5 separate regions of the Homo sapiens genome follow, and all the other regions are linked to region 4. The links come from fine-mapping of genetic effects on gene expression. A gene starts in region 4. Each other region holds a variant in brackets. All regions are shown on one strand. Distances are from middle to middle.

Region 1 (6,225 bases), 170 kb after region 4:
TGCTATGAGAAGAGCACTTTTAATCCATCAGCATGGCCAAAATAACCTTCAGCAGAACTCAATTTCAAGGTTTGTGTAAACAAACCCCATTCTTGTCTCAAAAACGTAGCCTCAAATTTATATGTGCACTTCTGATCTGATTTACTGTCGGTTTACATATTCATGATTTTCATATATAAATAGACAAGAATCCTGACACGAGAGAAAAAAAAGGTTGCTTTGATCACGAATGTCTGGTAAGTACACGGGCTATGCCAAATCAGCTTATAAAAATAGCAAACTTCATTTTGGGAAAACAGATTTCTCTAAAAGCAGTGTTGAACAGAAAGAGCGGACTCCTGGGTAGAGAGACATGAGTTCTACCTTGTTTCTGAATACAGGATCCTTATAGAGGCGTATTTCAATGAAAGGTATTTCCATCTAGAGAAATCATATGTGGGAATGGGATGAGCGTCTTCAGAGCACCTCCCACGGGCTGGGTACCAGTGGCTCTGGCCCACAGCAGCCAGGCGGGTGTGGGATTACCTTTAATGTCACGGTGGACTATGCCATGCTCATGGAGGACGTTGATCGCAATGGTGATCTGCTTTGAATACAGCCTAATCACATGTTCCTGAAGTCCCAGCCTTGACACCTCTTCTAAAGTCCCCTCATCGCAGTACTCCATGAAGATGTACATTTCTTCCTGTGGGAGGAATAAAGGGCAGCTCTGTGTTTACGGTTTTCCTTAGATGTACGCTAGTGAAAAATCTGGAAAACTTCCTAGGCCACACCCCAAAGGAATGTTCTTTCTAACGGTATACTACACTTGCCATCCTGAGCACTGAATGTGTCTCACAACAGTCGTTTCTAAGTCCTCTATAGAGGTGTCTGCCTGCCTCCTCTGTCTGGAATTATACAGCTCTTGGGGATAAGAACATCTCCAAATCACAGGGGATCAATTTCTATTATCCTCTGAAATTAAGTCTGCTATATAATCTCAGACAGGGACCAACAGGGCTGTCCCTACAAATACATTATTAAGTACTGAAACACATCCTTTTTAAACATAATTTGTAAAAACATTAAAAATGATCCATTTCCAACTTCCCCTGGAAGCTCATGCTCTACACCACGATGCTCCAAGTTATCCTCTTTCCCTCGACGTGTTTATTTCTAAACACAAGGAGGAAACTCAATTTGAGGTTTGAATTTTCTCTCATTTCACAATGGCTCCCTAAATACATACAAGAAAAAAACCAGTATTACTTAACAGTGTACTCAACAGTGGTTCAGCAAAAAAACGGAAAAAAAGTCACAAGAAGTGGTGTAAGGGGCGTTTTAGAAGAATCTTCTGAATGGCAGGATGGGTTTCAGTGCTTTATGATGTCGGGTTAATGACTACAGTCTACAACTTACATTTTAGGAGGAACTCCTCTAGTTTCAGAGAGAAGGCAGAAATGATGTAACTCATGGAGATTTCCTGAGAATTAGGCAAAGTTACTGTGCTCTGAAATGAGAAGACCTGTGATGTAGAACAGGACTCCATTCTGTGCCCTCACTGATTCCTCACACAAAGAGTGGCATTAGGGTCGGCTTACTCTATGGAGCTCCACACCAAAATACCGAACCAGATTGGGGTGTTTGATGCCTTCGAATATTTTCAATTCGTCTGCAGTTTCCTTGATAGTCTTATGGTCATTAGGTTGAAATCGAATCTGTAAAGTGAGGTGACAAAAATGTTAACTGGCTTGATTTAATCACTCTACATTATACACATACACTGAAACATCATTTTGCACCCCATAAATATATGTAATCATGATTTGTCAATTAAAAACAACAAAAAATTAAGTAAAAAGGAAGTTTTTAGCCAAGCTAGAGTGAAGTCATAGAAGTGCGGGTAGGTCCCGGGCACAGAGGAGGAAGAGGCCCTGCTCCGAGAGGGAGTGAGGAGCGCCATGTGGAGGAGGACGCGGCTCCACGGCAAGTGCAAGACGCTGGAGCCTCCCCTCTCCACTCCTCTCCTCCTTCCACGTCAAACCGGATGTCTCCACAGACAGCAGTGAGTCCTGTTTCTACTTCAGGTTCCCTGGCCCTTTCCCCATCCTACCTCCAGCGGTTTCAATGCCACTTGTTTCTGAAGCTTATCATAAATGTTATCTTCTCCCCCAATGTGTCCCCATAAGACACTACTGTTAATCCTCTCCTCTAAGCCTTCATCAGACTCAGCTCTGCCACCCTCATAGGCCCTTCTCACACCTGTGCTGTTAGAACTGTCTGTGACTTATTATCCTCTCTGGAATCGTAAGCCCCTTCACTGTCTGTGTGTGTTATCTCAGTGCATCTGCCTGGTTGGTCCTGACTGTCGCAGTGCTGGTGCTGAAGACAGCTCTACGCACAGAGAACTGAATCACGACCAGCGTCTATACGGAATTTCTATCACCCAGAGCCGCCAGGCCCAAAGGCCCCACGGAGCCAGGTGACTCACCTCTTTCATGGCCATCAGCTCCCCGGTGTCGACGCTGATGCAGGTGTACACCTTCCCATACTGGCCTTCTCCTGTGAACAATGCAAACAAGCTGCACTTCCAGCCACTGCAGGGGGCTGTCTTACATTCCTTAAACTTGTAATAATACTGTCCAATTATTTTGGACGTATATTTATATATCTATAATTATGTTTACTGCAGTTTACTATTGCAAGATCCAAAATTTTTCTAAATGTTCCCTGATAACTAAAGTTTTAGGCAATCTCTTTAATATGTCTTACCTACAAGTATCTTTAAATAGAGCAGAACCGACTTTGGTAAATTCCAGGAGAAGCATGAAAATGACCAATAAAAGCAGCCTTGGTGCACACCTCTGAGCCCTCACACCCCTCAAGGAGATCTTGGCTGGGGCTGGGAGCAGCAGAAAACAGCCAGGACTAAGCCTGACCATTGTCTTCCTCACTGGCACATGTCCAGGAGTGTGTGGGAGCAAACATTCCCCTAACATACCTTCTGGGACATTAAAGCAAGAGGATATGTGCCTGGACAAGACTGATAACAATAATTAATCCAATTTATAAAGTACTTGATTGTTTTCAGTGGTTTTTGCCCTCCTTGATAGCTCCAAGGAAACATCAGGTTTCCTCAGGCTGACAAAGTCCCATATTATTCATACAACTGTGTTCGCCCCCTTCAGACCTAGATGTGTGACAGATAAATATATTTAAGTGGGGAAAGGATCTGAAACACAAGACTTCTTCCCTCACATAATTTACGACTATTTTACATGAAGCAATTCCACCTGGAAATTAATTAATGAGGCAATGTTTTAGAAAAGAAGACTGTCTTGCCCTCATTTGTATCCAGTCTCTCTTCAAATCACGTTCTGCGTGTGTGTGTGTGTGTGTGTGTGTGTGTG[C/T]GCGCGCGTGTGTAGAGAGAGAGAGAGAAACTAGAACAAATGGGTCAAATTTTGGTACCTCTCCACTGGCAAATTCCAGGGTTATTAAGCAAAAGAATCCAATGCAATGAATCATTTAGAAATCTCTTTCTCATTCTAAAATCTCATTTTGTATTGCTCTTAGAATACATTTTACAAATTAAACAACCAAAAAAAATCCAGACCACTTTGCAAAAAGATAACAATGCATACTTGCTATGTCTACAAGAAAAAAGGGCCAACTCTATAGGATTCAACCTAAAGAAGTATAACTATTGCTACTTCTAACAGGGACTATCTTGACATCATGCTCCTTAATTTCCTTACCAATTTTGTTTCCTCTTTGCCATTTGAAGGTCACCTTCCTCAAGCCAACGTGCATAACATTATCATAGGACTTAGGCGTATCACAAACTTGACCAATGATATTCTTTCTCCTCATTTCTCGGTACCTCTTTTCTTCAAACAATCGGACTGACTTCTGGATAGCTTCTATGGGTCCTAGTTTAGAAGCAGTATCTGCAGAGAGAACCAAAACCTCATTAGTCCCAATCACTGTTATCAAGTCAGTTTCCAAAAGACAAACCAATAAAAATAGAGCAATATATATTAGCACTCCATTACAGCAAAGCTTATTATCTATTCAGATAAACAGCAGGTGAATTAAAGTTCTTCAAACGCTACTCATTCCAGCATATGCCACCCCTTATACAGTACACACATAAAATATAAGCTAGTCACACAAAAATGATTTCCTTTCCCAAGAACGTTGGCTAAAATCTTGCAGTAATATACATGTCTCTAGTTTCTCCTCTCTCCATTCCACACTCTTGTTTGCCATATTATTAAAACATAAAATGTGATCATGTTACTGTCCTACATAAATTTAATTCACGAGGCCTGGAGCAGTGACTCATTCTTGTAATCCCAGCACTTTGGGAGGTGAGGTGGGCAGATCACTTGAGCCTAGGAGTTCAAGACCAGACTGGGCAAAATGGCAAAACCCCATCTCTACAAAAAAATACAAAAGTTAGCCAGGTGTGGTGGTGTGTGCCTGTAGTCCCAGCTACTTGGGAGGCTGAGGTGGGAGGATCCCTTGTGCCCGGGAGGTAGAGGTTGCAGTGAGTCAAGATTGCACCACTGCACTCCAGCATGGGTGACAGAGTAAGACCAGGTCTCAAAAAAAAAAAAAAACAAAAAACCAAAAAACTTAGTTCATGGTTCTCCACTACCTACTAACCAAATATCCAAACCCCTGCAGAATTTGGACCCAGTTTGTCTTTTCTATGTTTTCACACTAGCCAAACTGAAAGACTCTTACAGAACACACCAAACTACTTTACTTTTCACTTCCATTACTTTTACACCTTTCCCTCTGCCTAAAGTATCTTCTTCATACCTGAGTATCTGTTGAGTGAATCTTACTCACACAGTGCAGCTGAAATGCCACGCCTCTTCTAGGAAGCCATCTCTGATGAGAAGGATTTTCCCTTCTCTGGGAAGAGTACAGAAAAAGGGCTCTAGAATCAAAATGCCTGGGATAAAATGCTGGCCTCGCCATTTTCTAGGTGTTTGACAATGGGCAAGGTAATTAACTTCCTCACACATTAAAAACCTAATCTGTAAAATAAAGATAAAAATACCTATCTCACAGACCTACTGTGAGGATTTCATGAAATAATACCTGTAAAGCATTTAGCCCAGAGGCTAGAACACAGTAAAACTCAATAAATATTAGCTATTGCCATTATTCCTCATTTTCCCACAGGCAATTTATCTCTATTTCTCCAACTTGTTTTATCATGACTCATACTAAGAAATACCTTTCACACATTTAACAGTTCTGTGAGCTATTACCCTTACTACATGTGATTCTGATTTCATCCTGTTCTTTTTTAAAAAATGTTGATCACTCCTACTAAAATTTTACAACCCACTAATGGTTCACAACCCATAAATTGACAACCATGGTTTGTCCACTTCTCTATGACAACACTTTTCATACCATATCCTAATTAGCTACCCAAGAGCCTATGTTTTCTGGCTCAGATGAAGAGATCCTTGAAGGCTGGGATGACTCTAAGGTTAATCTGAAAAGAGAAATTCTAAAAGATTTATAATGGTCCAGTTATAATTTCTTATTACACTCATTTATTTAAAATACGGATCCAAGTTTGTTTCCTTTACCTCAATATACAACACTGCAAATCTACCCAGCACAGGGCAAGATTTTGACAGCAGTGAGGCCATGGGCTCCACTGACAAATATTTCTGAGAAACGCTTAAAAAAAAATTTCTCAAGATTCCTTTTTTTTTTTTTTTTGAGATGGAGTCTCCCTCTGTCACCAGGCTGGAGTACAGGGGCACGATCTTGGTTCACTGCAACCTCCGCCTCCTGGGTTTAAGAGATTCTTCTGCCTCGGCCTCCCAAGTAGCTGGGACTACAGGCGCGCACCACCACGTCCAGTTAATTTTGTATTCTCAGTAAAGACAGGGTTTCACCACATTGGCCAGGATGGTTTCGACCTCTTGACCTCGTGATCCACCTGCCTTGGCCTCCCAAAGTGCTGGGATTACAGGTGTGAGCCACTGTGCCTGCTTTTTTTTTTTTTTTTTTGGAAACGGAGTTTTGCTCTTGTTGCCCAGGCTAGAGTGTGATGGCGCGATCTCAGCCCACCGCAACCTCTGCCTCCTGGGTTCAAGCAATTCTTCTGCCTCAGCCTCCTGAGTAGCCGGGATTACAGGTATGTGCCATCTTGCCTGGCTAATTTTGTATTTTTAGTAGAGATGGGGTTTCTCCATGTTGGTCAGGCTGGTC
Region 2 (6,225 bases), 62 kb after region 4:
TATTAAAATTGTACTCAAGCCTATAGAAATGTGAAGCATCTAGACAGTCTCTATGGGGTATTTAAATAAGTATTTAAAATGTCACATAAAAAACATAGCTTGTAGTCCTACCAAAGAAAAAATTGTTAGTATGAAGCTGGATATGGTCTGATTTTTTGAAACTGCAGATGGGCCTGTTGCCTTTGTCTCAGTCTTATCTAAGGCAGGCCAGCAGAACAGGTTTGGAGGTCAACGTAGATAGTTTTGAAATATAGTCACGTGCCCCATAATGACTTTTCAGGCAGTAGACCACATTTACAACGGTGTCTGCTAAGATTGTAATACAGTATTTTTGCTGTGCCTTTTCTATGTTTATTTTATTATTTATTTATTTATTTATTTTGAGACGGAGTCTTCCTCTGTCACCCAGGCTAGAGTGCAGTGGCACGATCTCGGCTCACTGCAACCTTTGCCTCCTGGGTTCAAGTGATTCTCCTGCCTCAGCCTCCCGAGTAGCTGGGACTACAGGTGTGTGCCACCATGCCCAGCTAATTTTTTTGTATCTTTTAGTAGAGACGGGGTTTCACCATGTTGGCTAGGCTGGTCTCGAACTCCTGACTTCAATTGATCCGCCTGCCTTGACCTCCCAAAGGGCTGGGATTACAGGCATGAGCCACCATGCCCAGCCCTATGTTTAGATACACAAATAGTTACCATTGTGTTACAGTGACCTACAGTATTCAGTACAGTCACATGCTGTACAGGTGAGCAGCCTAGGAGCAACAGGCTTCTGAAACCCCCAAAATTTGAGACAGGCCTCAGTAAATTTAGAAAGTTTATTTTGTCAAGGTTGAGGATGTGTGCCTGTGACACAGCCTCAGGAGGTCCTGACAACATGTGCCCAGGTGGTCAAAGCACAGCTTGGTTTTATACATTTTAGAGAGACACGAGACATCAATCAACAGATGTAACATGAACATTGGTTTGGTCTGGAAAGGCAGGACAACTCGAAGGAGAGGGGCTTCCAGGTCACAGGTAGGTGAGAGACAAATGGTAGCATTCTTTTGAGTTTCTGATGAGCCTCTCCAAAGGAGGCAGTAAGATATGCATTTATCTCAGTGAGCAGAGGGATGCCTTTGAATAGAATGGGTGGCACGTTTGCCCTAAACAGTTCCCAGCTTGAATTTTCCCTTTAAGTGATTTTGGGGGCCTAAGATATTTTCCTTTCACATTCCCCAACACCCCCACCCCCACTTTAAAAAATTTTTTTGGAGAAAGCATTTTAGAAGAAGATGAGTCTCTGTTCCCAGGTTTTGTCTGATCTCTCATGACTAGGATGGCTTATTCCTAGACAGGTAGGATCTAAGTTATTAGGAAAACTCATTTTTATAAGGTTATTCTATGAAGAGAAAATAGAGGAAGGAAGACAAACAACAACAAGCAAAAGAACAATCCTGGAAAAATCAATATAGGCCACATTACTCTGAAGCCCATACATCAGTAGGCAGGTATGAAAGTGGCTTATGTATGTAAATAGATTGTTGTCATTTTCTTTTGAAGTTTAAGTTGTCTGGCTTCAGTTCACAGGGCTTTACAAAAGCACAGCTTAGTTTTCAGTGACTCCAAATTAGGAAAAATTGGGAAAAAAAGGAAGGAACAAAAAATTGAAAACATTATTTTGAAGACTTGTAGCCCAGAAAACTTAGAATTCAGTCCAAACTGTAGAAAATAATAAAAATTGAAAAATGTAAGATAAAACTAGAATCTAACAACAGGTGTACTATAGTTTTGAAGCATAATTATTCTCTCTTCAGTTTCCCATTTTTACTAAAGACAAATCATGGTAGGACTGGTTTGCTTTATTATACTTGGCCTAATTATTTGTATACAGTGCAGCAAGAATAATTATTTTTACAAAGGCTTTTAAATTGGCTTTGATGGAACTGTGTTCCATAGGAGGAATCTCAGATAAGACTTTTTTAAAGCCGAGCCCAGCCATGGATTTGTGCCATCAAATACCTATGAGTTGGGTGATCAGCTCCTCTTGAGGTTCCAAGATAAACTTGAGGCTCCTGGACCTGCCAGAAAGTGACATTGTTTACCTACCACAGGTCAGGAACCCTGTGCAGGGGCTGTGTAGACAAAGGTATGAGGCCAGTTTTTTCCAAGGGGTTTTTATTGGCTTCATAAGTCAAGTTTGATTCCTTAAAGGAAAGCACACCATTACAGTCAAAGTCTTGGTAAAATAAACAGTTTCTCTGATTGTGGCCTGTTACAGTGAAAATTGATTCTTACTGCACTTATGCAAATAACTGTATTGTTATAAGTTAGTTATCAGAAACCTGCATTTAAGAACACCTGTTAGAGTTCTATAGCTGATTATAAAACCACCTTCTAAGGAGGACCAAAACAAGACAATTGTCCATGGATGACAAAATGTATTAGGGTAGCCATAGTGAAAGACACAATTGACAAGGAAATTTGTTACCTTGTGGCACACTAACAATTTAACATAAAAATTATAATTATCACTGAAAATGTACATTAAGTCATATTAGAATTACAGGAGTTTACCCTGATTTTGGAACACATACCAATAACATATTTATACAAATACAACCTAAAGGAAACCAAACACCATTTCGTATTTGACAATGTTTCCTGTATAATTTTTATACCAGATAAGCCAAATTATGTCACTTTTGGACTTTAGGGAATCTAATGTCTTAAAGGATTAATTAGGTAAGAAAAAGACATAATTTATAATTTGATTTTGGCAAGTTTGTCAAATAACAAAGGTTTAATACTATTGATATCATAAAATAGGGTCATTCATTTAACTAAAGTGATAACTCAAGGATTTCAAAAAAGGCAAACATCTTCATTCTTTGAGAGAGGAGACTTAATGTTCCAAACAATAAGCCCTAATAAAAATAGCACAAAGTCATTTAAATTTGTTTTTCAAAATTTTGTAAACAATCTATAAAATTTTAATCTTGACCATAAGATACAGCTTCCATAAGCCTTTTATAACCTTTATAACATTTACTGAGGAGTCAGTTAATGCTTCAAGAAAACTTTGTTAATTTGACACAGGGGCCCATATGCTAGTCTTGCATCAGTGTGCCCTTCAACATTAATGATTAATTTATAGAGAAACTGAACTTATTTTATCTTTCAAAATCGACCTTTACAATCTCATGCACCCACCTCTTCCACAATACTCTCTGGGCCTTGAGTTGAAATGGCTTTAATTTCTGGCCCTGTGTCTCAGGAATGTAGTTTATTTTGATTGGCATCTTCTACAGGACCTGAAGATGGGGCTTTAATTGCTGTCAGTGTTTAAAATTTAGTAGGATTTGGTGTCATTTTTAGACCCAGGACTCAAAATCCTGTAACTCAGTGTCACAAGTACTTTAAAAGTGCATGCAGAGAGATATACAGATGAAATAACCTTAATTAAAAAAATTAATTTCAGTTTTTTCCTAAGTAAACCAAACTTAATAATAATATGACAACTTGATCATATAAACGTTTTTTTTAAAAATCTCTTTTTATGACTTACACAGACTGTTCATGACATGCTTGGACTTTCTAGTTTGTCCTGAACGTCCCTCTTTCTTAAATAACCAGTCATTTTACTCTAGGACTAAATTTACCATACAAGATTTTTTTCTCATATGAAATTATTTCTCTTTAAGCTTTCTTGCCAAAGAAACCTCTGTATTTTTATAACTTTCTTTACATCTCTTTTATTTCCTCATTCCTTTTACCTTGTTTTATACATGACTTTTAAATAAGCTTTGAATTAGACAAAAATTGTTCATCTTCTTTTTTAAAAGGACACACTT[T/C]GTTTTTGGAGAGAATGTTTTCTATTGGCAAATACCCAAATAATGAAATATCTATTATTTAATTTAATATAACTTTAGATTCTAAATTATGATGAGTTTGTCTACAAGTATTTATCCTATAACATTTACCTAAGTATTTTATTTGTTTAGCTAGATTATTTATGGAAACTGTGATAGTCACCATTTAAAGTTATGGTACCACTGTTGGAAAATTATAACTGAGACCGTGAAAAAGATTTGACGTAACTGACTCCATCTTGCTTTTTACCTCCAAGCTGTCCTTGCTCATTCCTGGGCATAGGCCAAATTAACTTTTGGAGGAACTTAGTTTATAGTTTAGTTTTGAAACAAAGATGATAACAAATTTTACTGCCTGTGGGCTAGACTGCCTAAAGCCACAAGATTAGAAGTTACAGTAATCTTACTAAATTTGAGATGTAGCTATTTTTATTTAACCAATATTAATGTCTTATTTGTTAAAGAGTACACAAGAAAAGATCATTCTGATTTGGGCTGGGTTTATAGTTTTGTAACCCCTATGCCAAATTTTTGACACCTTATAGTATTTGGCAGGGATAAGTATGAAATTGCTTGATTAATAAATGCAAACAAAAATATATGCTGGCAATTTTTAAGACATTTCTAATACTACTTTACCAATAATTTTAAAGCTAGCTTATTTATTAAATATATTAGTTAAGTTACATAAACTTGAAAAAGCATTTGACTAGTCTCTTCCTTTTTCCTGATAAAGTATTTGATTCAAGTGCTTTAGTTTTCTTAAACTAATTAATTGGAACTCTTTATATATTTTCAGTAGTGAAACATTGTGTACACAACACATAAATACATAGACATATTAGGCATGCCGATAGAAGTACATCTTATAGATTCATAAAAACCTTTTTTGTTTTATCCTGTCTCAGACTTTCAGATTCTTGATAATCTGTTTCACAATCCTAGGCAGCTGTCAGCTAAATAGCCTTAAATTTGCATATTAAAGGAAACAACTAAGGTGTAAATCAAATAGCAAAATTTACATTATAAAGTACAGAGAGAAAAAGTCTGGTGGTACTAGAGGGAAATTAAAGATGGATGCCAAATCAAATGTAAAATCATAGAAATCTATCATAGGATTGTATAAGGAGACCAGGTTTATTTAGATAGGGACTTCCTATCTTTTAACTGGATCTCTGAACTCTGGGCAAAACCTACACTGAATCCTGGGTCTTCAAAAAGGGAGAATTATTATGAGGTTAGACGCTTTTACAGTGCACTTAAAAAAATTTTTTTTAAACAGAGACGTTCCTAAGTGTCTAAACCATACTCTTCCTTAAAAATCCAAGAATAACCTCTGTTGCAACTATTTTAGTCAAAACAAAACAAAACAAAACGAAACAAAGGGGTCTTGGCTATCTATGTCTCTGTGGTGTGAACATACCAGTGCCCTGTTTCACCTCCTGATATTTCTGTTCTTCATCACATCCTGCCTGGTCTCTGACCAATCATCTATTTATGCCTTGATTGACTTAATTCATTTATTCAACAAACGTCGGTTGAACACCTGCTTAAGGTACATACTGTTCCGAAAGCTGGACAGACAAATGAGGACCCATTCCGTGCTCTTTTGGGGCTTATATCTCCATGGGAAAATCGAAGGCTTTGCCTGTCTGACCCTCGAGGAGCCTGTTCGGGTCTGACATGGAGTCTTGCTATGAACATGCTATGAACATGCTCAATTCAGGTCTCTCCTGGTCTGTGCTTTCAGAGTCCCCCTGTTCTACTGGTCCCAACTCCTCATTATGCCCAAGGCTGTGGAACAGAGTATCAGGATCAGCAACAAAGGGAACAGAAAAGTTCCCTTCTCTTTCTGGCTTTGTTAGAACAATCAACGTATTTTACAGCTAAATTTGCAAAAAATTTTCTAGCAGCTTGGCAAGGCTTTCCTCATAGAGGAGTGGTAATGAAGCCCTTTTATCCAGCTCCATGGCTCATACAGTGTCACAGCTGTTGGTGAAATTGATAGGTGCCCATGGATTAATTCAAGCCCAGTAGAGAAGAAAGCAGCCATCACCTCCAAGCAAGCCTTTGGGATTCCTCATTGTGGCTTTCTGCTCAGCTCTTCTCCAGAGGGTGCTGGAGTGGGGGAACTCATGTCACTCATCAAAGTTCCACTTCGATGAGGAATGCCTCATTCTAGCACCAAAGTGATGTCTGCCCACTTATCACCAGGTTTCAAGCTGATTTATGGGCAACCCAACTTCTTTCATTTGGTTTACACTTTTTTTTCCTTGAAAGTCAGCCTTTCCTGTTCGATGTGCGTTTTCTTCCCCAGTAATTAACACAAGGTCATGATTGCCGTTTTAGGGACTCTTTCTGGTGTGGGTTTGCTTGT
Region 3 (6,225 bases), 110 kb after region 4:
TGGTCACAGAGCCTTTGTGTGTGATAAAATTATCAGGCATATAATAGTAATTAAAAAGCTGTCCATTTATTGATTGCCTGCTATGCCCCATGTCATGCTAGGTGCCTTGAGTCCATGCTCTTATTTAATATCCACAGCATCTCTAACGGCATTTACCTGTCCCTACTTTACAGAGAAGGGGGACATTGAGAAACATGCCAGAAGTCTCACAACTAGTAAGTGGCTCCACCGGGATCGGAGCCTGGATGTGTCTGACTCCCAAATCCATGAAGACAATATTCAGCAGCCATCCTATTAGCAGGCCTTTCTCCTTTCCCTGTCATGTTGTTTTGTGGTTGTGTAGCTGTCTTTTCCCTGGACAGTAAGCTGGAGGGGTGCCAGGATCTGATCTAATGTTTAATCATCTCCTGTATCTCGCAGAGTGCTTGAACGCATTAGGTAATCACGCGGCATTTGTTGAAAGCATCCATGTGCCAGGCTCTTGCTGAGTCTTGGAGTCGAGGCTAAGGTCGGGGTGAACCAAACAGTACAGTTGCTGTCTCGTGGCGCCCGTGCTCTATAGTAGGGGAGAGAACCTCACGCTGTGGTCACAGCTGTGATAGGGCTGTGGAGGGTACTGGGGAACATGTGAGTGGGGTAGGGGGCGGTGAGAGTGGCCTTAGGCAGGAAGGAGTCCCACAGAGAGGCATTTGGCCTGTGACACAAACGAAATGTGAGTCTCTTGGAAGCATCAGCTTTGTCTCCCTGACTCCCTGTGGAGTTGTGCTTTGGTGCTTATCTGTGGCCTTTGGCCAGTAATGGAGTAGATTGATCCTTCCCATCCTCGGGCTTGGAAAAACTCAGCCCAGCACTACAGGCATCTTCGTGCCCCATGGTAACAAATTGTCCCTCTGTCCCTTTGTCAGGCTGCCCTGCCAGGCTGCATGTTGTTACCCTAGCCCCCCACCCCACCACCGCCTTCCTGCCCCCACAACCAACTCCCAGGATGCGTCACTATTCCTTGACTTGTGCTTCTGGTTCCAGCAATGCTATGGCCTGGTGGGACAACTGAATGGGAGCTTGATATTTTCTCAGTTCCTAGAAATAGGTAGACACTTTTTATTGTTCATTTCTGGAGAAGGAAGGGGAGTGGTTTTCGTCGTTTTTAAGGAGACTGATAGCTTCAGTTTGCTGGGAACTTACAATGTGCTCTACGCTGAGCACATACTATGTGTTAGGTGCTTTATGTTCACAGAACCCTTTGGGGCAACCCCATTCCAAAGATGAAGGCACTGTCGTGTTAGGAGGTTAATTTGTCCAAAGTCCCGCAGTGCTCACTGCGTAAAAACTGGACTGTGATGCCTTCTAGAGGGCTCTGGTGCTCCACATCAAGCCTCCAGCTTCCAGCCTGGAGGAGAAAAGTTTCCAAGGACAGCCGCTTGAGCTACAACACTAGGCTTACTGGAGTCAAGGCCAAATCCACCTGCCTGTAGGGTAGGGATGGGGTGGGGAGGGAGTGAGTCCTCTGCTGCATGCATGCTTCACTAACGAGTGATTAAAAATGGGGGGCACATGGCCCAGTGCAGTGGCTCACGCCTGTAATCCCAGCACTTTAGGAGGCTGAGGTAGGAGGATTGCTTGAACCCAGGAGTCTACCCAGTAGGCAGCATGGCAAAACTGCGTCTTTACAAAAAATACAAAAAAATTAGCTGGGCATGGTGGTGCACACCTGTAGTCCCAGCTACTCAGGAGGCTGAGGTAGGAGGATCACTTGAGCCTGGGAGGTTGAGGCTGCAGTGAGCCGTGATCACACCACTACACTTAGCCTGGGTGACAGAGCAAGACTCCATCTCAAAAGAAAGGGGGAGGAGGCACAACCCTCGCAGAGCACTCAGGCGCCCACCCCTACTGAACACCGTCAACTTCAAGAGTCCATTTCAAAGTCCATCACCCACATTCAACTGTTTTTCTGGACAGTTTCTACCCTAGAGGCTTTTCCTGAGCCTGCCAGATTGGGAATAGGTTCCCTGGATGGGAGGCATCACTGAAGAATAAACTGCAAGTGGTCATGATTGCCTGAAGAAAGAATCTTTTTCTTTTCACAAGCCCCTACAAAGACTATTTCAATAGTTCTCTTCAGACCTGCTGTGGGCTGACTCTCACTCCCGCTGCCCTGCAGGTGCTGGGGCTCCTGCGGCTGGATCTGCCGTTCTCCATTCTTCCCCTGCCCTCAAGTGTCAGAAATGGGAGAGGAAAGTTGGGTATTTAATATTCTTTGATGGAGTTTATAAGTATCCCAATTAGTCATTTTCCAGGATATTAAGAATTCTATACCTCATCTCACGCTGCCTTTCAGAGCTCTGTAAACACAAGGGCATGAATTCTTGACGGATTCTGGCTTTCTGATTTATTTTCCCCCAAGATACTTAATCAAGGAGTAAGTCATTTACCTTCTCCAAGTATCCTTCTCTTCTTCCCTGGAGAATGTTGTGAAGTCTTTCTCGTGTTTCCTTCCGCTTCTGAACCCTTTCAAGGACCAAGGTCTGTGCTGCAACGATCCAGAACTTTGCCCGTAGAAGTTGCTTTCTCCCCTAGCTGGGAGGGCAGAGCCCTGCTCTCAGCAGGGCTCCCAGGACAAGGCTGCATGTAGTAAACATCTGTCTGTTGTGGTTTGTTCCAGAGCTGGTGATGCTGCTGGAGTGGTGGTCGGGCACGGAATGCACCATCTTCACGGACCCGCGCGCCTACCTCAAGTATGGGAAGGAAAATGCCATCGTGGTTCTCAACCACAAGTTTGAAATTGACTTTCTGTGTGGCTGGAGCCTGTCCGAACGCTTTGGGCTGTTAGGGGTAAGTCAGAAGTGCATTCCCCCCTGCCTCACACATTTCTCTGGTTCAGCCCCACCACTTGTCTTTTTGCTCCTGGTCATTCAGAACTTGCAGAAGAATCAACAGAGTTTCTACTTGATGAAATGGTCCTAATAAACTGCTTTTTATTCTTGCTGGGAGTCAGTCTTAACAGCTTCTTATGGGCAATCATAAGAGGTACTCAACAATTGCTACCTGCCGGCCATTTTACATATGATTCATTTATTTAATCCTTACAGCAACATGAATAGATGATGTGCCACACTCCATTTTTTAAAAACTAAGTTATATAGAGCTTAATATTCGGCTCAGAGTCACACAGCTGTAATTAGATTTGGATTTCACTCCCATCCATATTTCTTAATTCCATGCTCTACTGCCTCCTTGGCTAACAGGCAGACATCACCTCTGCATTTTGATC[G/A]TTGAAGGCTTAAGAACTTTGAGTCCATAAGTGAGAGAGTGAACTGCAAAATTCAGAATTATTCTGAAATTCTGTTTTTTTTTTTTCCCAACTAGTTTGACCTCTTGCACGTAGCTTGCATGCCTTTGGAACTGGGTCTCTTCAGTTGACTTTTGTCGTCTTCAACACACTGCAGCGTGTAGCGGTTGAGCCTGTGTCACATAGCTGAATCAGAGTCATCTGCGGTACTCAGGTATTCCGTAGGAATCACAGTGTACACAGTGTACATTGGTCTGGGGCTAGGAAAGGTCCTAAGAGTTTGCACCAGAACTTAGAGATCAGGTTTTGCACCTGGGAACAATGCCCTGTAGAACAGATACGGGGGCTGCTGAAATCACCTTGCTTTTTGGTAGCCCCTGAAGACAAAATCGTGGTGTTTAGAATATAGAAGATTGGAGACAGAGGCTATCAGGCCATGGAGGACATAGGGAACTAGACGGGTCTGGTTCCTGGAGGCAGATGAAGATAGCCTCCTGCCCACTGTTTTCTCCTTTTGTTTTCCTATTTATTCTCCCAGTGCTAACTTGATATCTTCTTGTGTGTACACGTGTGTGTGTGTGCAAATATATTTCTAGGAACAAGAGCAAACATTCTAGTAACTATCATTCTCTGATGTGGAGAACTTGGGCAGAGATCTGAGTTACAGCTTTGTGGATTTATTCTCTCTGATGAGAGATCGCCCCTTAGAATGTCATGGTCCTAACCCCGTCATGGATACCAGGGGTGAATGGCAGGGTTCTTCTCCTGCCCAGGAGGAAGGGTATGGGGAGCCGGTGCATCTTGACTGTCAGGTCACCTGTCTTACCACCTTTACAGCTAGGCTTTCTGAGGTGCCAGCGTCTCCTGGAATTCAAACTGTAGTTTAGAGGCAGCTGGTGATTTTCCAGGCTTTGTAAGTACTTTCTGGTAGTGTTCATGCTTAGAATGTGCAAACATTCATAATTCGTGGACCAGGAGTCTCTGAGGTAGAGCAGAAGGCCCATTGAACTTGGGGGTGCCTTCCAATCCCTGCTTGCCCCTTGGTGGCATTACACCCACGAGCTCACTCCGTGTGCTGTTCACCTTATTTCCGTAATTTCTAATCCTTAGGATATTATTATCCACATTTTATAAATAAACCCCCAGAGCCTCAGTTTGGCTGAGTGATTTGCCCGAGGACAATAGCTCCTAAGTCTGCTTTCAAAGCTTCTGCTCTTTCCCCTGGAAGATGTTGGGGGCACAAAAGCAGGGGCCCTGGGGCCCAAGACCTGCTCCAGAAACAGGACCCTGACCATCCTAAAACGACCCAGACCAGCTGCAGTAAGGACCAGGCTTCTAATACCTTCCTGGCTCGTGATGTGCAAAGGCCTCATTCGAGGGGTGCAAGTCACCCGCACCTTCATGGGGTTGGGGATGGAGTTGCAGGAGCTGGCAGAGCAGGGTCATGCACAGAGATGCTGGAGAAGCACCCAGATGCCCAGCACTAGCAGGCACGGGGACAGGCACAGATGAGGGAGAAGGTGAGCCCCACAACACATGCAGGGAGGGACCCAGGTCCAGAGAGAGGACATAGCCCCCAGACGGGAAGAGACATTCACGGAGCGGGAATTTAATCTCAGCACCGTTTAGGGTTTTGCTCCCAAAGGCTTCCGAATCCATGATCACTTTACAACTCTGAGCATAAGGGCGGGAGCGCTGATGGCGGGAAAGCAAGTCAACAGCACGCCCATCCCACCTGCAGCATAGGGACCGCACCTCCCCTTGATTTCATCGGTGATATTCTATTTATAGGACTTCACTCATTACTGTGAACACCCAAACAACTAATGCTGTGTGTAAGGGGGTCTGCGCCCTGCCACTGATGGTGGAGACTGTGCTTAGGATTAGAGTCTTCGGGGGCTCCACTTACAGGTGAAATAGGCAGGTCTGGGAGCCTGGGGCCAGGGCGATGCCTCTTCTCTTCTCACTGGAAGTTTGGGAGCCTTGCTCAGTGGGGGCCTTGGGTTTTCTGGATTCTTGCTAAAGTGCTTCCTTAAGCCCTGAGTCCTCTCTTCTCCAAACACCACAGAAACAGCCAGTGCCATTGTTATGCACATTCTCACAAAGCAAGGAGCTAGAGAGAGCAGGTGCCAGGAGAGGACTGAGTGGGGCAGGCACATGGCAGGCACTGGCTGGGGCGGATGGGAGCTGCCAGCCTGTACCCTCCCAGGGAACCCCCTCCCCATGTCACAGGGAACAGCTTTGCCATCTACTGGAGAGCTGTGGCCCATGACGGTGGGTGAGATGGCTGGTGCTCATCTCTGCCACCCTGGAAGGGGGTAAAGAACGGCATTGCCTTATATTCATTGTTCAGCAACATCTTTTGTCTTTAATGACCTTCAGAAAAAAAAAACAACCTCATTCATCTCTCTGTTTTTTCTTAAATAACACATGATGTTGGGATCCTTCTGGAGTCTGTGGAATTTGCTTTTTAAAGAGGAAAGGAACAGAAGAAGGTTCCTGACCAGGCATTTTTCATCCTCACCTATCACAGTCCAAGAGGAAATGAGTTTAAATTGAAGTCAATGAAATTTGCAGAAATTCACGAAGGTGGCATTTTTAAATGTAAAATTGGTCTTTTTGGGGAAAGTAATGGAATTGTCTTTTTAACAAAGAGGCTTTCAACCTTTTAAATGTACTCAAGATCCCATGAGGCCACTGCTCATTGCAGTGCCTGTCCCCAGAGGCTCTGGTTCTCCTGGGAGCCAGTGCTTCCTGGCATGTGCCAGGGCTCTGAAGGCTTTGGTTGATCTTGGAGTCACACGCTGAACCTTGCCTCCCTGGAGATGAGAGTGACACGCAGTCAGCTGGGGCACAGGTCACTAAGGTGCCCAACAAACCGTGGTGTGCAAGCGCAGGTCAGGTTCCTGAGGCTTCACGTCCCCATTTGCTTATCTTTT
Region 4 (6,225 bases):
CCTCAATCTCACTCTCCAGAAGTAATGATTATTAACAGTTTCATGATCTTCATCACACTGCATTAAGTTTCCCAGAGCTGCCATCACAAATTAGCACAAACTGTGTGACTTAAAACAACAGAAATTTATTCTCTTACAGTTCACGAGGCCAGGAATCTAAAATTAAGGCATCAGCAGGGTTGGGTCCTTCTGGAGGCTCTCAGAGAGTCTGTTCCATGCGTCTCTCCTGGTTTCTGGTGTTTGCCAGCAATCTTTGATTCATAGACACATCATTCCCATCTCTACCTCCGCCATCACATGGCCTTATTCTATGTGTGTGTCTTTCTGCATCCTCTCCTCTTTTTATAAGGACACCAGGTATTGGGTCTATAGCCCATCCTAATCCAGAATGACTTCGTCTCAGCTGATTAACATCTGCAAAGACTCTGTTTCTAAACAAATTCATATTGTGAGGTTCTGGGTGAACATGAATTTGTGGGGGACACTGGGGGACACTTATTCAACCCACTACACACACTGTAATATATATTTATAGAATCACGAAAACGGGACCATAATTTATATAAAGCTTAGTTCCCTTTACACTTAAGATACCATGAATTTCCCTAGGTCTTTCAAACACAGAATTTTAATTTTTTGTAGAGTGTTTCATCATATGAAGATTACATCATTTCCATAGCTAACCTGCTACTTCAAACACTCAGATGGTTTCCAGACTTTACTATTATAAATGGCTCTGATGAATATACATGTTCCCAAATCTTTGAATTTATCTCTGCTTATGTCCTTGGTATAAATTATTCTGAGTCGAATTATTGGATTAAGGGGTATGAACATTTTAAAGGCTCATGAAAAATCTTCTTTAATTGAATTCCAGAGATTGTATCAATTTGCCATCACCAGCAGAAGAGAGAACCCATGGCATTGCATTCTCTGCACTGCACGTTCTAGCTTTTTGAGTGTTGGACAAGTGACTAGGCAAAGAAATAACATCCTTACTTTGTGACTTGTATTTTTATGTAAGGTTGCCTCTTTGTTTACGGACCACTTATATATCTTTTTTAGGTTACCAATTTATGATTTGTGTCTCCTTTTCAATTTTTTTCTCCTCTCTCCAACTGCCAGTATTTATTTCTTACCATCTCACGGATGAGTATACTGTCCACCTCCACCCCTTTTAGAGTCCACTGTTAGCTAAGAAACTATGTAGATGTATCCTCCCTCTCCTTTTCCCATTCTCGAACCACCTCTGAATCTTGTACAAATGTCAATCATTGCCTCCATTGTGTCTTAACTGTTTACATTTCGCTTTCCCTTCTAAGACTTTGAGCACTTTGGGGCCATTTCCATGTCTTATCTGTGTTTTTGTATCTTCAGCAACTAACATGGATGCTCAATAAACATACATTGAACTGAGTTGTTACGTTGTGACCTGGAAATATTCACAATTCCTTGTATAGATAGAAATAGCTAAATAAGGGCACATAAGGATAGACTCTAAATGGCACTCAATAATGTGCATAGGGCTGGGCGTGGTGACTCCCTGCCTGTAATCACAGCACTTTGGGAGGTGGAGGTGGATCACCTGAGGTCAGGAGTTAGAGACCAGCCTGGGCAACATGGTGAAACTTCGTCTCAACCAAAAACACAAAAAATCAGCTGGGTGTGGTAGTGTATGTCTGTAATCCCAGCTATTTGGGAGGCTGCAGCACGAGAATTGCTTGAACACAGGAGGTGGAGGTTGCAGTGAGCTGAGATCGTATCATTGCACTCCAGCCTGGGCAACAGAGCAAGACTCTGTCTCAAAAAAAAAAGCATAGGATTTAATCCATGAATTTTGAATTTCTATGTTAAATTTTTAGAAATAGTAACTTTTTCTCCCATATTTCTCAGCTATATCTGAGATAACTGGGACTGAGCAACATTGTCTAGACAGGCAAAGTGTTAGCAATAATAAGTATAATAATAATTGTAATGTAATAATGGAATGAGGATGTTAAAGTACTGAGATCAGGATAAAAGTTACAATTGTCCAAATTTTAAATTTCCTATCATTTCCACTGAAATCACTGACTGTACTTATAACATTATCAGGAATTTATGCAATTTGTAGGTTTTGAAATAAATTACCATTCAGAATTCAACCGTGAAAAACAGTGTAACTCTACTTGAAAAACACTTTGAAAAACTCAAGTTTCCACCAAATCTAGAAGCACATGGGTCGTAAAACATAGTTCGAAAAGTTACGAGAGATGATGACTACAAGGAACTTTTTATAAAAATCTTTTATAAGCATTACTCTGTGGTCAAATTTATTTTCACATGGATATTAAAACAAGTTATTGCTACAAATGGGTTTCTGTTCTGATCCTTTTTTTGTTTGCCTCACATATCCTTTCTCTTCCACCACATTCTGCTTCACTCTCCCCGTCTCTCATCACAGACAAGAAAAATGCCACCTCCCATAGGACCCACTCCAAACCCTGTTTCCTGAATGATCAATGCCTTCCCCCATCGCAATCAAAAAAGCACTTTCTATTCTGTCTTCATGACACACTGGTTTTGACACTTGCATAGCTGTTAGTAATTCTGCAATGTGCTTGGGCTATTTGTGAGCACATGTATTTTTCCTTTATAGATTATAAACATCTAAAGAACAAGGTTAACCCAGGAGTCAAGTAAATAGTTAAATATTATTTTGACAATGGCTGTAATAGTGGACATTTGAAAGGAATACACCTCAGTATTTTGAAATTGAAATAATTTTCTAGATCCTGGCATTTCTGGACTTTCAACAGCCCACCCTTTTTAAAAATTGTGAAGACACTTTTACTATAAAGGTCTGCCCAGACCCTCTCTGATACACCTGTGTAAATGCCACGTGCATGTGAGCATGCGACAGTACGTGTGTGCACGCCTGTGCAGTGGTAATCAACCATGGTGCTAAGGTTTGAAAACAGAAAATACATCAATCGACCTCCAAGCTTCTTTCATCCCACTTCATAACATCTCAATCTCTTGAGTGCTGAGGCTTATTTTGTTTAAGATGATTTGGACTCTTCTGAGTGCAACGCAATCTCCTTCCAGCACAGCGGACCGAGGAGAGGTGAGGGGAGAGTTTTGAGGGTGGGCATATTGATCCTACGCTTGCTGAATTAAAAATGAGCCAACTGAGGACAATTTCCAGGTTGCAACACAGACGGAGCCGGAGTCTGGGTTGAGGTTAGAGGAGCCGTTAGGGCGCAGGGATGCAACAGGATTTGGGAGAAAGGGGAGAGAAAGCAAGGCCACTTCCAGGGGGCTTTCATTTTTTTTTTATCCTGGCAGCTTCCCGAGCCAGATTTCAAAAGCGATTTCAAACGTGAAGCCAACTGAAGCACTGCCTTACACTAATTGGAAGGGGAAGGGAGTGACTCATATTACACCAGCTCGCTCTTCCCTCTCGGCAACTGCTAACTTGTAGCTTTAAAAGGAAGTGACATGGGTGGGGAGAGACGTCAGCTGAGGACCACTTTTTTTTTTTTTTTCTTCCTGAAGGGTCCACCCCATGGGTGGAGTCTCGCTTTTTCTTTCCAGTGTTGGCTGACTTACAGCTCTTATAAACTAGTGGCAATTTCTGAACCCAGCCGGCTCCATCTCAGCTTCTGGTTTCTAAGTCCATGTGCCAAAGGCTGCCAGGAAGGAGGTATGTGGTCCTGGTGCCGTTCGCAGGCACCTTCCCCGCTGGGTGTGGCTGATGTTTGCATTCCTCTTCCCAGCATATTTTTCTCTCCTGGGCTGGATTTCCTTAGGACCTCTGGAAGGGGTAGGCTCCGGGGGCGGGGGGGGAGTGCAAGGCGGGCGGGGGAAAGGTGCAGGGGGCGCCTGGAGGGAGGCGAAGAGAGGCTCTGCTGGTACAAAAGGACCCTCGCTTTGTGCTGGGCCGGGTGAGCGTCCCTTTCTGGGCTGTGATTTCAAGCTGCTGTTCCTGGCTTCATTTACCCACCCACCCAGCCCCCTCCCGGGGCTAAAGCATTTTCTCTGCTATAGACGAAGCTGGGCGGGGGGTGGTGGTGGGGGGAATGTTCCTATTACATATTGCTCTCTTTTGTGTCATGCAACATGTTCTTCCGTCGCTGACGTTTCTATGGCAACCACAAAAATACTACACAATATGCAGCCCCGATATACATTGATTTATTTGTATTTTGTGTCTAGTTTGCAGCTTTCTGCTCTGCTTCTTGCTTTGGTTTGCTAAAATCCAGCATGGCTTGTGGCTACCCCTCCTCACTTTCATTTTGGTTTTTCCCTATCACAGGAGGGGTGGGGGAGGGGAGTTGTCAAGGAAACAGGCATTGGTAATTACCTCTCTATTTACCTAATTTTCGGCCTATGAATTTCTCCATATCGAGGAATTAAAAAAAGAATGCTTTGATGTTTATGTAAGTCTTCAGTGTCTGGTCTTTTTTTAGAAAACCTAAACACTTCTTAAGATAAGATATTGATCCTGTGGTCAAGCTAAGGGGGAATTAATTCCTTACAGGAGGTGAGATCATTGAAATAAAGTTTTAGAGAGCATTGGAGAATTCGCACTGATAAATGTGATATTGCCTGCCCAGGTTTGCCTAAAAGCTTAAATATTTAAAAGATGGGTCTTTGCTCTCATCTGCACTTATTTAGCTCCAAATCTTAAGTTCAACAAGTATGAGTAACAAATTAACTGCCGGGCAGGATTCTCCGTTTTTCGTTTTCGTGCATTGTTCTTAGATGGATTAGCCACGCTATTCACTCTCTTCAAGGTGAGGGTTGCTAGACTTTTTCAAAACTGTGGAAGGATTAACTCATCTGTGATTAGTCAACGACTCTCAGTTGGAAAAAAAGTATCTTGAGAGAAGGGAGAATGTGTGTGTTTGTGTGTGTGTGTGTGTGTGTGTGTGTTTAGGGAAATGGGAGGCGGGCAGGGAGAACAGGGCACATCTTGAGTTCTACGTTAAAAGGATTCCATCTTCTGAATATTCTCTATGGGGAGAAAAACTGTTATTCAGAAAAAATATGAAATGAGAAAATTATTATCTACTTAGTAATAAGCAAAGTTAATTATAATTAGAATCAAATAACACATCTCTTAGAAAGACATAGCCTCTTAACAGGTACCGGCTAAACTGATGCTTTTATTCAGTACGTCTAAGGAAGCGTTTGATAAGGGATACCATTCTTCTGATGGGCATCCCAAATAATTAGCTTTTATAAAATAGATAAGTAGTAATCCCATTCATGACTCTTAAAATTATCTATAATTTAAGATAAACATGTGTGAAGGTCACTTAGCCCTCATACCTTCCGGCTGCTAAAGCCAAAATCATTACTTATAAACCTTGAGCAACCCTGCCATGTGGAAGCAGGAAGAATGGGTGGTTTCAGTGAGGTTCTGTTTGCTGTGATCCTTATCTAAATATGCTATCATCTATGTCTTATCAAATCTGCTATAAATCCAGAGGTCCTAAGTAATTCAGGTAGAAAAGTTACCTGAAAATGGGGCAAAATAGCATGGCACAAAACAAACCAGAGCCACATGGAGTTAAAGACGAGAACTATTTAAAGGGCATAACACACAGAAAAGTATTACTAAAAAGAATATGACACTCATTTTGAAAAGCACATGTTAGTACACAGAGAAACGGTTGGATTGTGAGCATCTGATGTTTGCAAAGAATTCTGAAAAGCAGCCAGGCTGAAATTACTGTTTTTCCTGTCTGAAAATGGTCCTCAAGGGCAGATTTGCCACATGACCTTCCAAAGCAGATTGACAGCATGTAAATCAAAGTCTGCGATGTCGGTTCTCTTGAGTTTCCAGATTCAAAATTTCACAGCAAAAAGCCTAATGGAATAGAACTGAAAGGAAAAAGAGCAAGACTTCCTCAGAAGCACAGCCAAAACAAAAACAACAAAAAACCCAAACCCAATAAACAAACAAAACACTGTCTGATATTCAGATGCTGAGTAGAGGTTAAAGCAGTTAGCAGCTTTGGCCTAGGGAAGGTAAGTGGAGCTGTGAGTATAAAGTAAACGTAGGGTCCCATGGAAGAGGCTGACAGAGGTGACACCCAGAGGGTGAGTCAGCCGTCATTTTATTGGGATTTTACTGTCTGCAAGGCTCTGCTGTGAAGTTGGTGAAGAAGGCAGCAGTTGTAGTCTGTGCTCTCAAGCTTAAAATCCACCAAACGGGTGGCGAAAAGAAGAGCAGAG
Region 5 (6,225 bases), 25 kb after region 4:
CCATGAATCAAGCAAATGTCTGGGTTGGAGAGAGGACTCTCCTATTACCACTGCAAGAAACGAGTCACTGACTGCCACCCACAACCCCATGTCAGAGGCCGTAGTTTTGTCAAAGGAAGGTGGTCTCGGGGCCTCTAGAGGCCTCGTTACACCCTCTACTGCTGCACACATTCCTGTTCTGGCACTTGAGTTATAACCATTAACCCACTTATGGAACTTAGTGTTCCATTATTGGAACGCTAAGCATGTGGGAATTATTTATATCCTCCTGCTCAAGGTCATCACCAAGGTCTGATTTTTCACTCATGCAAAAATTCAAAAAATTATACTCTCCAGCATAAATGGGTTAAGAAGATAATTACAATTCCCTACCATCATAGGCCTTCCATTCCCTAATCTGTAACAGGTAATGTATCCCTTTAGAAGAATCTAAATGGCTGCTCCCCCTCTCTGCTTTTGTTCCTCCTGCAGAAACTGCCCTATAGGTAGATTTGTAAACTATCAATGCCCTTATGTGTATCAAGAGCACGTCTCCCATGTTTGAATGGGAAACGTAAGGCCCGGGAAGTGGGCTTGGCATCCACCTGGCTCCCCTCATTCCCACCTGGGAATACGTTGGCACAAATGAACTTGCAGGAGCTCTCAGGCGCAGCTTCCATCCTCCCTGCGGGTCTTTAACCAGCGGCCGGACAGGCTGGTCTGTAATGCAGGGTAACGTTGTGCAGCCTCTGGGAGAGGAAGAGGAGATCAGGTGGAGAGGCCAAGAGAGCAAGGCCAAGGAAAGAGCTGGGGGCACACAAGCTTGGTGGAGCCCTCCTTTGTTCTGACCAGCTGAGTGACAGGCAGGTCACTTAACACTCTAGCTGTCAGCTTTCTCATCTATCAAAGGAATAGTTAGAGAATTGACCCCTACAGTTCAATTCATGTCTGTTTATTGGTATTCGATGTAGGAGAGACTGCATGGGAATCAATGAGGTAGAGAAGGATCTTTCAACAAATGCCTTGGATACAACTGGTTAGCTATTTGGAAATCCATTTAAATCTTCACAGAGGACTGTAACCAAAAATAAGTGTAAGATGGATTGAGTAGCTAAAAACAAAATTAACTATAGAAAAACTAGATAAAATGAGTGAACATTTATCAGTTTTCTGCAGGATAAGAAATAAGCGTAGAAGGAAGCCCTAAGTTTAAACATTATGAAAGAAATTACAGTTCTTACTTCATCGTAATTTAAACCTCCAATAAGCTAAGAATAAAAATAAACAAACTGAAAAAGTTGGTCACTCTAAATGGAATAGGCGAGATGTTATTCTATTTAAGAAAGCAATATGCAAGGGATAAAGGCACAATCAATAAAAAAGTCATGGAGGGGAAACAGCATTTAATAAATACTTTAAAACATGCAGCTTCATGGCCATTCAGAAATGCAGTTTAATGTAAGACTGTATAAAGATTTAATTTTGCTTTTCATTGTTTTTAAATGAGAATTCTTATTGCTGACAAACATGTAGTGAAATGGGTATTTATATATATTGCTAGTAAGAATATAAACAGCTACAAATATTTTGGCAATATTTGGCAATACAAGCAATTTGTCAATATTCACTAGGTACCTTAAAATGTTTGTTTCTGGAATGCAGAAATGTTGTTTCTGGGAATATATTGCAAAGAAATAACCCAAAATTCAGGAAAAAAAAAGGTTTGTGCCCAGAATTGCTAAACATTGCACTATTTATTCTTGAAAAAACACAAAGAAGCCTAAATATAATAATGAGGCAATTAGGTAATAATTATGATATGTCTAGTATAATTATGAGAAGGATATTTATATTCTAATATGGCAACTGAATATGATTTCACATTAAAGGCTAGAAAAGAGCATATAAAATAGATTTAAAATAAAATCTCAACTACTGTATATTTATTTTTAACTTTTATTTTAAGTTCAGGGATACATGTGCAGGTTTGTTATATAGGTAAACTTGTGTCATGGGGCTTCTTGTACAGATTATTTTGTCACCAGGTATTAAAGCTACTACCTCTTAGTTATTTTTCCTGATCCTCTCCCTACTCCCACCCTCCGCCATCTGATAGGCCTCAGTGTGTATTGTTCCCCTCAATGTGTCCATGTGTTCTCATCATTTAGTTCCCACTTGTAAGTGAAAACACGTGGTGTTTGGTTTTCTGTTTCTGCATTAGTTTGCTAAGGATAATGGCCCCCAGCTCCATCCATGTTGCTGCAAAGGCCATGATCTCATTTTTTATAGTTGCATAATATTCCACAGTATATATGTACCACATTTCCTTTATCCAGTCTACTATTGATGGGCATTGAGGTTGATTTCATGTCTTTGCTATTGTGAATAGCTGCAATAGTGAATAGCTGTGAATAGCTGCAGTAGTACTGCAATGAACATAAGCGTGCATGTGTCTTTATGATAGAACGATTTATATTCCTTTGGGTGTATAACCAGTAATGGGATTGCTGGGTCGAATGATATTTCTGTTTTTAGGTCTTTGAGGAATTGCGACACTGTTTTCCACA[AT/T]GGTTGAACTAACTTACACTCCCACCAATGGTGTATGTGTTCCTTTTTCTCTGCAACCTCACCAGCATGTGTTATTTTTTGACTTTTAAATAATAGCCATTCTGACTGGTGTGAGATGCTATCTCACTGTGTTTTTGATTTGCATTTCTCTAATGATCATGATGTTGAGCTTTTTTTCATGTGTTTGCTGGCCTCATGTATGTCTTCTGAAAAGTGTCTGTTCATGTCCTTTGCCCACTTTTTAATGGGGTTGTGTGTTTTTTCTCGTAAATTTATTTAAGTTCCTTATGGATGCTGGATTTTAGGCCTTTGTCAGATGCATAGTTTGCAAATATATCATCCCATTCTGTAGGTTGTCTGTTCACTTAGTTGATAGTTTCCTTTGCTGTGTAGAAGCTCTTTAGTTTAATTACATCCCATTTGTCAATTTTTGCTTTTGTTGCAATTGCTTTGGTGTGTTCGTCATGAAATCTTTGCCCATTCCTATGTCCAGAATGGTATTGCTTAGGTCATCTTCCAGGGTTTTTATAGTTTTGGATTTTACACTTAAGTCTTTAGTCCATCTTGGGTTAATTTTTGTATATGGCATAAGGAAGGTGTCCAGTTTCAATCTTCTGCATATAGCTAGCCAGTTATCCCAGCACTGTTTATTGAATAGGGAGTCCTTTCCCCATTGCTTGTTTTTGTCAGCTTTGTTGAAGATAAGATAGTTGTAGGTGTGTGGCCTTATTTCTGGGCTCTCTATTCTGTTCCATTGGTCTATGTGTCTGTTTTTGTTCAGTACCATGCCCATTTGGTTACTGTAGCCCTGTAGTATAGTTTGAAATCAGATAGTGTGATGCCTCCAGCTTTGTTCTTTTTGCTTAGGCTATTCAGGCTCTTTTTTGGTTCCATATGAATTTTAAAATAGTTTTTTCTATTAATAGTACTGTGAAGAATGTCATTGGTAGTTTAATAGGAATAGCATTGAATCTGTAAATTACTTTGGGCAGTATGCACACTTTAACGATATTGATTCTTCCTATCCACGAGTATGGAATATTTCTTCATTCGTTGTGTCATCTCTGATTTCTTTGAGCAGTGTTTTGTAGTTCTCCTTGTAGCGATCTTTCACTTCCCTGGTTAGCTGTATTCCTAGTTTTTTTTTTTTTTTTTTTTTTTGAGACAGAGTCTCGCTGTCACCCAGGCTGGAGTGCAGTGGCACGATCTTGGCTCACTGCAAGCTCCACCTCCCAGGTTCACTCTATTCTCCTGCCTCAGCCTCACGAGGAGCTGGGACTACAGGGGCCCACCACCATGCCCGGCTAATTTTTTGTATTTTTAGTGGAGACGGAGTTTCACTGTGTTAGCCAGTATGGTCTCGATCTCCTGACCTCATGATCCGCCCGTCTCGGCCTCCCAAAGTGCTGGGATTACAGGCGTGAGCCACCGCGCCCAGCCAGTATTTTATTCTTTTTTGTGGCAGTTGTGAATAGGAGTTTGTTGCTGATTTTGTTCTTGGCTTGTCTATTGTTGGTGTATAGGAATGCTACTGAATTTTGTTCATTGATTTTGTGTCCTGAGACTTTGCTGAAGTTGTTTATCAGCTTGAGGAGCTTTTGGGCTGAGACTGGGGTTTTCTAGCTGTAGGATCCTGTCATCTACAAACAGGGATAGTTTGACTTCCACTCTTCCTATTTGGATGCCCTTTATTTCTTTCTCTTGCCTAATTGCTGTGGCCAGGACTTTTTTTTTTTTTTTTTTTTTTTTTTGAGACAGAGTCTTACTCTGTTGCCCAGGCTGGAGTGCAATGGAACAATCTCAGCTCTCTGCAACCTCCGCCTCCTGGATTCAAGCGATTGTCCTGCCTCAGCCTTCTGAGTAGCTGGGATTACAGACATGTGCCACCACACCTGACTAATTTTTGTATTTTAGTAGAGATGGGGTTTCACCATGTTGTTCAGGCTGGTCTCGAACTCCTGACCTCAAGTGATTCACCTACCTCAGCCTCCCAAAATCTGTGATTACAGGTGTAAGCCACCATGGCCTGGCCAGGACTTCTAATACTATGTTGAATAGGCGTGGTGAGAGAGGGCATCCTTGTTTTGTGCCAGTTTTCAGGGGGAATGCTTCCGGCTTTTGCCCATTCAGTATGATGTGTTGGCTGTGGGTTTGTCATAGATGGCTCTTATTATTTTAAGGAACGTTCCTTCAATACTTACTTTATTGAGAGTTTTTAACATGAAGGAGTTCAACTACTATATATTTAAAAATAAAAAAAGCCTCTGAAATGGTTTTATCTAGCAAAGGGGAGGGGAAAGCTTTATGCATTCGCCAAAGAATAGAAGAAAACAAATCAAAATGTTGTCAATAGCTGTTCTAGGTGGTAAAATGTCTGCATTTTAGAATTGTATGCATTTTGTATAATGAATTACTGTTATAATGGAGTGACTTTACCTTTCAAGAAATTCCTGGCTTTGCCTAAGTGATTTACACGGCTAGTATAATTTCCTTTAGTTTCACTGGATTTGTGTTTTAACAGAAGATTCTTTGTTTTAAAAAAAGTCACCTCTGTGTTCCTCAACCGACATCTGAGTTCCTCCTCTACAGGGGATTCCGCAGGTAATTTGCTTTTATTTGAGTAATTTCATGTCAGTTTAACATATAGCCTCATGCAGTTTCAGTGCTGGTAGGAAGAGGACTCAACTTGGCTGCTTACAGCATGTAAAGGTATGGAGAGCAATCTTGTGGGTTCATCTGCGTGGATTTTGCAGGGAGAATAACTTGGTGTGTCATCTGCCCTGTGTTTAATGTTAATGGGAAAGAAGCCCAGGACTTTATCAGTTTATGCTCTTACTTTTGCTTTGTCTTTGACAGTTCAGTGTTACCACTATGAAAATTAAATTATGTTAGGTCATCTAGAGACTCAGATGGAATCAGTATTTATTGAGCATCTGTTCTGTAAGAAGTGGAAGGGGTGGAAGTCATCCCGGCCCAGGGTATATTACTCAGTAAGTGCTTTAGTTTATTGGGCATGGTACTTACCACTTAAAACCTAGCAAGGGGCTCTGTAAGAATCCCCTGTGCTAGGCTGGGTGCGGTGGATCACCTGAGATTGGGAGTTCGAGACCAGCCTGACCAACATGGAGAAACCCCATCTAGACTAAAAATACAAAATTAGCTGGGCGTGGTGGCGCATGCCTGTAATCCCAGCTACTCGGGAGGCTGAGGCAGGAGAATCGCTTGAACTTGAGAGGCGGAGGTTGCAGTGAGCTGAGATCACTCCATTGCACTCCAGCCTGGGCAACAAGAGTGAAACTCTGTCTCAAAAAAAAAAAAGAATCCCCTGTGCCTATGCTCAGAAGTCTAATGCAATGTTAGTATATAGTAGAACTTAAATATGAATCAATGAATTTTTAGCTGAATGAATGAACGGGTAGCTCCTTGGATGGGAACCTAATGAATGAATATACTTCTCAGTGGACGAATGAATGTATGCGTGAATTAAACAACTCTGTCCTGGATTCTGCTTAAAAGTTGGAAAGAACCTCATCACTTCTCCAAGCATCTTTTGCTCTGAGCTTGATGACTGAAGTAAGAAGAGAGAGAAGGCCCTGACACATGTTTGATCACTGCTGCTGCTAATGAAACTTTTCGAGGAATAGCCAGTCTGTAATGCCCTCAAAGGCATCCTTCATA

Direction of the effects. Positions count from the first base shown, and alleles are read on the strand shown. Sizes are in standard deviations (SD) of each study's normalised expression. Not every link is listed here.
For the expression in monocytes after R848 of the gene that starts at base 3,562 in region 4, T is the high allele of the variant in region 1 and C is the other (moderate effect, 0.47 SD a copy in Quach 2016).

The links. PIP is the estimated chance that this variant, and not a neighbour inherited with it, causes the effect.
Region 1: its variant is fine-mapped to the expression of AGPAT4 in monocytes after R848 (Quach 2016, PIP 0.95).
Region 2: its variant is fine-mapped to the expression of AGPAT4 in whole blood (TOPMed, PIP above 0.99).
Region 3: its variant is fine-mapped to the expression of AGPAT4 in whole blood (INTERVAL, PIP above 0.99).
Region 5: its variant is fine-mapped to the expression of AGPAT4 in nasal epithelium (TOPMed, PIP above 0.99).

The regions. Positions count from the first base shown.
Region 1 is chr6:161,104,215-161,110,439 of GRCh38, reverse strand. MAP3K4 (mitogen-activated protein kinase kinase kinase 4) reads right to left here. Exons shown (of 27, transcript NM_005922.4): 20 at 3,735-3,926; 21 at 2,471-2,541; 22 at 1,581-1,697; 23 at 526-685. Among named protein-coding and RNA genes, the nearest start is that of AGPAT4-IT1, 55 kb to the left of the region's middle. The variant C/T (reference allele first, on the strand shown) is at 3,390.
Region 2 is chr6:161,208,926-161,215,150 of GRCh38, reverse strand. The region is part of intron 2 of AGPAT4 (1-acylglycerol-3-phosphate O-acyltransferase 4); the gene reads left to right. Among named protein-coding and RNA genes, the nearest start is that of AGPAT4-IT1, 50 kb to the right of the region's middle. The variant T/C (reference allele first, on the strand shown) is at 3,831.
Region 3 is chr6:161,162,852-161,169,076 of GRCh38, reverse strand. It overlaps AGPAT4 (1-acylglycerol-3-phosphate O-acyltransferase 4), which reads left to right. Exons shown (of 9, transcript NM_020133.3): 3 at 2,660-2,829. Among named protein-coding and RNA genes, the nearest start is that of AGPAT4-IT1, 4.0 kb to the right of the region's middle. RefSeq lists enhancers at 437-1,032, 2,515-3,224. The variant G/A (reference allele first, on the strand shown) is at 3,269.
Region 4 is chr6:161,271,398-161,277,622 of GRCh38, reverse strand. AGPAT4 (1-acylglycerol-3-phosphate O-acyltransferase 4) reads left to right here and starts at 3,562. Exons shown (of 9, transcript NM_020133.3): 1 at 3,562-3,685.
Region 5 is chr6:161,246,055-161,252,279 of GRCh38, reverse strand. The region is part of intron 1 of AGPAT4 (1-acylglycerol-3-phosphate O-acyltransferase 4); the gene reads left to right. Among named protein-coding and RNA genes, the nearest start is that of AGPAT4, 25 kb to the left of the region's middle. The variant AT/T (reference allele first, on the strand shown) is at 2,547.